2 linked regions of the Homo sapiens genome follow. The protein of the gene in region 1 purifies or fractionates together with the protein of each later gene. This does not show direct contact. Each region holds a gene or a part of one and is shown on either strand. Other genes may lie near its edges. The genes, in order: BSN and RIMS1.

The links.
Region 2: the proteins of BSN (region 1) and RIMS1 purify together in Homo sapiens (affinity purification with western blotting; 2 studies listed by BioGRID and IntAct, with this or other methods). This does not show direct contact.

The regions. Positions count from the first base shown.
Region 1 is NC_000003.12:49,669,347-49,672,249, forward strand, and holds the end of BSN (protein bassoon), read left to right. Parts: 3' UTR 1-2,203; downstream 2,204-2,903. UniProt on the Homo sapiens protein: Scaffold protein of the presynaptic cytomatrix at the active zone (CAZ) which is the place in the synapse where neurotransmitter is released.
Region 2 is NC_000006.12:72,400,330-72,403,755, reverse strand, and holds the end of RIMS1 (regulating synaptic membrane exocytosis protein 1), read right to left. Parts: intron 3,261-3,426; coding exon 3,042-3,260; 3' UTR 611-3,041; downstream 1-610. UniProt on the Homo sapiens protein: Rab effector involved in exocytosis. May act as scaffold protein that regulates neurotransmitter release at the active zone.

The sequences.
Region 1 (2,903 bases):
AGCCTGCACAGGATGTGTGTGTATGGACATTCTGAAGGTTTGCTGTAGGATATCTGTCTGTCTGTCATTTTCCCTTCCTACCCCAACCCTGAGCCAGAGGCATCTGACAGCCCTTTCCCAGAGGGCACCACGCAAGGGCAGAGCTGGGCGGCATCCACAGCCAGAGAGGCAGAGGCAAGAGCAGAGCCAGGCTGTGCCCGAGGGACCCCAGCTCTTGACTGCACCTGTTTCATGCCTCTCCTCTGTGGCTAGGAGGCTCAAAGGACTGTGAGCCAGGAGATCTGGGCTGGAGCTAGGGGGTCAATGGATGCTCAGGAAGAGCTGGGCCTTTGGCACTTGTGGTGAGAACAGTTGACAGTGGTCATCTGGAACTGTTCATATAAACAGTGGCTTCAAGCTAAGTTTCTTGTGAAGTTTCTCAATAGCAAATCTTACAGAAGGTCCTGTGTGACCCTCTCTGCATCTGTCCCCAGGACCTATGCTCCCTGCTCACCCCCTTCTCCAAAGCCCAAGCGTCCCGCTGCTCATCAGCTTTTTTACCATTGAGCCAGGAGTGCGGCAGGCAGTACCTGCCTGACCCTTCAAGGCCTGACCTTCGTCCAGAGTGCTCTGGTTTGCACCATGCATTTCTCAGGGGTCCGCATTTCTCATGCTTTTCTATAAGATCTACACACCCCTTCAGAGAGGGCTCCTCGCTCACCTCTGGTAGCTATGGATGGGACAGGAAGCTGCCAACCTTTGTGTTGGACTTAACACCCTTGCCTTTCTGGGACTTGGCCTCACCCCACCCATGGAATACCTGCCTCATCCCAAAGATCAGGTATGGGCTGAATGCAGCCATCTGAGCAAGGGCTGAGGGAAGCCATCACCTAACACCTCTGGCCACCCAGGACCAGGTCTGTGTGGGGATGTGCCTTGGAGACCAAGGCAATAGTCCTTTCCACTACAGGCCAGGGGATGGGACAAGAAGTAGGGAACAGGCAGGGAAATGTTAGGAGGTCAGCCTCCAGCAGGCCTAGTCTCAGGCTCTAAAGTACTGACTTTTCAGCAAATTTCCTTTCTGGCCAAGCCCTCTGAGTTTGAAATTCTGACATCTGCCACTCCTCATCCCCCACTGTACCCACAGGATACATCATCGCCCCTCTGTGAAGGTGGCTGGAGCAGGCCTCTGGTCCATGGACTGTCCTTCCTGGCCCTTGCATGGATGCAGTTGTGACTCTGGGGACAATGCAGCCAGAAGCTGAGGGACCAGCACTTGGTGCCTTGGAAAGTAGAGAGCAACAGACACATCTCCAAATGGGCAAGGAGTCTCTAGCATGCAGCCCAGGCCTTCTCCATACCCCTCTCCCCAGCATCATGAGCAAGGGCATTGCCTCCTCTCTCTGCTCACTTCAGGGCCCAGTGCACTCACTTCACAGTGACAGCCCTCCCCTACAATCCTTGGGCAGAGCATGTGGTCTGAGGGCCCACAGTGAAAGAACAGCAGTGGTGGCAACTATGCCTTGCCTTCTGGAGCCTGTAGGGAGTTTTCCAGGCAGGTCCTTTGCCAGGACAGCATGGTCCTGCCCTGTTGTCCCGTCTGCTCTCCTCTTACCCACCCCCATGCTGTAAATACTTGTCATCATGGACTCCAACAGGGTTAGAGGGACAGGCCTAATCAACTGAAACTCCTCGGAGATGCCATCTCTGTCTCCCTGGGTGCCAGCAGCCCTGCTGCCATGTGCACTGGGGTGGCACTGGAGAGCCATGGCAGTCGTGAGATATTGTATGTGTATGCACATGATCATGTGTGTATGTGCGTGCGTGCGTGCGTGTGTGTGTGTGTGTGTGTTTCTGCCTCATTCAGTTTCTGGGGTCAAATCAGCTCCTTCTCTCCAAGTGCACTACCCTGGAGAGTGGTGGCCACTCAATACCTTTTCCTCTAGCTTTCATGTCTTGTTTTTGCTTTCCCCTTCCTCCTCCCTCTCTCCCTTTCTTTCCTTCTCTCCTTCTTTATTTGAGGGGGGAAGAGTGCTGTACAAAGTCAAACAAACAAGTTTACAGTTGTAAGTGCAATGACCCGAGTCCTCCACATGACCTTGTGAATTGTGTGCTGTCCTTCTGTGCTCTGTGAGAACTCGTGGTACTTCAGTGTCCCTCCCCCTGTATTGTGACAAGGTAATTCTGTGGTATCAGAATAAAAGGACTTGATATAAACAACCTACAGACTGTTTCTGGGATGGTTTCTCAAGTGGGAAGGCTTAGCTGAAGGAGCAAATCCCCAAATTTGCGACAATCCTGTCCATGGTTAAAGGGAAAAGGATGGACAAAGTTGCAGAAGTGCTGGCACAGCACGGGGCTGAGTCCACACCAAGCCATCCAAAGACAATGGGCCCTCCACAAAGGTGCCCAAGGGGAGGTCCCAAGCTTGGACCTGGAGCAGGCAGTCAGTGCGCAGGCTGTTGAGGGACAGCACCTCCATGGCCTTCAGGTGTGTTGGCTGCATACACAGCTTTCTGGGACCTGGTTCCAGGGAGGCAGTGAACAAGTGCTGCCCCCTGGTGCTGCCAACAAGCCCTACACCTCTCTGCCTTGCTCCGAATTTTCCAACCCCCAAACTCTCACCGGCTGCCAGACCTTAGGCCTTCCTCAGATGGTCAGGAGTACCTCCTTACCGAAGTCACCCAGAGTTGCTAGACCTTTTTTTTTTTTTTTTTTTTTTTTAACACAGATAAACAGGAATCCCAGCTTCACCTCTGGCCCTCTCCCCAGAATTAACATTTTGATGCGTGTCCTTCTTTCCTGTTTGTTGTTCCAGTCTTCATTTTAAACAGAAGCCAGAAGGTGCAATATATCCTGTTTTCTAGCTTTCTGTTTATTTCCACGTTTATTTCAGGTACTTAAATGTTCGTCTTCCAGTGCTC
Region 2 (3,426 bases), on another chromosome or scaffold:
GCCTAACAGATAATCTTGTGTCTTGTAGACCAAACAAATGGATGATTTAATAGGGTAAAATTCAGTCAACTGTTTAAAAACTATAAATAACTGATGCATTCATGTCTCCAAACTCTTTATTGCCTCAAATTTTATGTTGATGTAACTGTGTTTACTTTGCTTTACAAGTTAAAGCCAGCGTGGTCTATAAAAAGTTAAGAGCTCTTAGAAAGACAAGACTAGATCACAAAAGTTATTTTACTACAATGCAAGATGAAAGTAGTGCTTACCAAGTGTTTCATGAGAGGCGATGATTATTAAATACATGAGCACACTTTCAGGTAAGAAAAAATAATAAAATAACCTAAAAAGTTAATAATGTCTCTTTGAATATATTATTTTGGATATCTATCTATATTTGAAGATACTTTTATTATCTAAGATTCTATTAAAGATAATTCAGTGTAAATGTAGTGCTTATTTTTTGTTAAATTGGTCTCCTCTAAACCAAAGTTATATAAATTAGTCATGGGTTCAGAAGAAAAAGATGGAAAGAGGAAATATACTATGACGAGAGACGCAGGAATCAATTTTTTGATATGTCACGTAACTTGAAATAATTTGGCAATTGGACAATAGAGTTGTCTCTTTTATTAGCACATTCAAACAGCAGCAGAAAACAACCTTCCATTTGATTCTTACTGAGATTTATTATTTTTAATAATGCCACTTTTCAGAAGTATAGTCATGTGCTCACTTAGACAGGCTGACGAAGTGAAAACTTGTATGTGATGCAAAGTACCCTTTGGGCCATCGATTAAGACATAATATAGTGCAGTGACAAGTCAAGTCAAATGCCCGCAGCAGACAACAAACCCCAGCCTCCCCTTCCCATGGCCTGGCTCCCATTTTGCACCATAGAACCCACAATGGAAATCTGGCAAGACATAGAACACATATGGCTACTGACTGACATGAAAAGTAAATTTTATTAAACATGTTTACATACATGAATTGGAATTTCATTTAAAAGCACAGGGGAGTGTTAAGACAAGTGGTCAAAATAGAAAGATACTACCCAATTATAATCAGTTGATTGTTGGCCACTAAGACAGAACGGAATCTAGTAGAAGTGCACCAATGCTTCAGTTCCTCCTACTCAGCATGGTGAGCAGTGGTCAATCTGTGCCCTGTGGAATGATGGGCAGATAATTCTGGCATGTGTAAATAATAATAAATAATTCACTTGGTGCAGGCAGTATGTCTATGAATTAAAACCTAGTGTGTACACAGTGTCTACATGTGTTACAGCCCCACAGTAGGAATCTACACCAAAATATTTATTAGAAGGAATTTGGTCCGTACTACATCACGTTTTCCGGAGGGTAAAAAATAAAGTCCATCTATAGACATTTCACCACAGACCCAGAGACTGAGTCTGGCTAAAACCTGCAAAATGTCTATAACAAAAGTGGATGGCTTAGATTTCTTGGTTATTTCGGTATAGTAATTAACAAGCAAACTGTACAAGTACATGCAACATACAAGCTGGCCTATGTGGAACTAACATACATTATTAAATAACCTTTTGTTTCTTTTCTTTTTAAAATTTTTTTTTTTTACAAAATGTGCATGCAGCTCTGAACAGTTCCAAGTCATGCTGCTCTATTTGTGTAATCACAAAAGTGGAGTGACTCATAAAAGGAGGGAGAACATATCAATGCACCTGCAGAGACTGCAGTTTGTAGCACATGTACAGAATGTCACAAGGGAAATTCAAGGCCAAGAGAAACTAAATGAAAATGCAAATTGAAAGTTCATTTTGTTTATTTTCCCCCCAAAAAGTAAGATACTTTGCATTAAAAAATCAAGCTTTGTGCTTGCATCAATCTCAAAGAAATGTAAACTAAAATTCAATAAAAACAATAGTTTAGTGCAGAATATTTCAACTGGAATTTCCAGTGGAATATTGAACAGCTCATACCATGCTCTTTCCAGGGCAGATGGATGTGTCTACACTGAGGTATGGCTGAGAAGCCTGGGCATAGCTCAAAGTGTCTTAGGCTCAAATCCATTCCTAGTCACCATTTTTGGGAAGTCAAAGTATGGTTTATACACATGAGCATTTTTTTAATATCAGGAAGAAAAAGGCATTACAAGGAGTGTTTTCAAAGTACAATTATGCAGTTAGTTTTAGTCCCCAGCATTAGTTGCAGATTGACTTCTTTAAAAGTCTTCCATGCAAAACAATGGAAACCATAAATTAATTTTCTAGAATGCAAACAGATAGGCTCTTCATTAAAAAAGTACTTCTGTGATTATTTATTTTGGAAGATAACTTTTTGTCTCTTGGGTATCCACACATAAGACTTTAAATAATTATAAAATGAAAGCTAGTGAAACCCTTCCTTGGCTTCACCTTATGTAGCTGTTTAACACTTTGGGGAGATGCTACAGAGACTACTTCAGCCCTTTTTTTTGGTGCTTTTGGAAAAAAGAAGGGAAGAATCTCTGTTAGCATCATGAGGCCTGTCATGACACAGCCAAAAAAAAACTAGTGGAAATAACAGATGTGGTGAAAACAAAACAAAAACTCAAGAAACGAAAACCAACAAACAACACACAAATAAACAAAACACACAAAAGAACAAAACAACTCAAACATCAGGGAAATAACACTGCTTGTGGTCTGTGCAGAAATGTGTAGAATACAACTTTTCACAGAGTGAGAGTTTCCAGTTTGTTCAATTTGGTGTGTGTGTGTGTGCATGTGTGTGTGTACGTGTATGCGTGGATTTAAAGTTTCCTCTTTTTCTATTTGTTAGAAGCATCAGTGACTCTCACCAGCATGTTGATTCTTCCTGTAAATTTGATAGATTGCCTTGTTCTGTCATATGAAGCCATGTTTTAAATAACAATTGGGACATATTATTGAAAAACTACTACAGGCAAAACACAAGTTGATTGTCTGTCTCCAACAATGCTTTCGATCATGAAATATCTGGTTCAGATTATTATCCTGAAAAGTAGAGTTTTATTGGAATGACTCTGGTATGAGTTCACTATGATCGAATACAGGGAGGCCCAGTTGAACTTTCCAGAGATGACTGGGAAGCCCGCCGGGTGAGGGGAGTGAGTGTGGGATCCACCAGTGAGGACGGTGGGAACAATTTGTACCATCCGATCACCATGCTGGACAGGTCGAGTTCTTCCAACAAGATCTGAGCCACACCCATAAAGCATTTGTGGTCCATTCTGCCATAGTCTCCCCAGACAATCACCTGCAGAGATAGAGAAATGCAACATTACCTGGACTTCTCTCTGCTTCACATTCGAAGGGCTCAAAGCAACTATGCTGTAAAAGTGGGCCAGTCAGTGAAGCAGAGGAAAAGAATAATGAATACAACTATCACCAAGGAGAAGGCACAGATAAGAAGATACACTAAC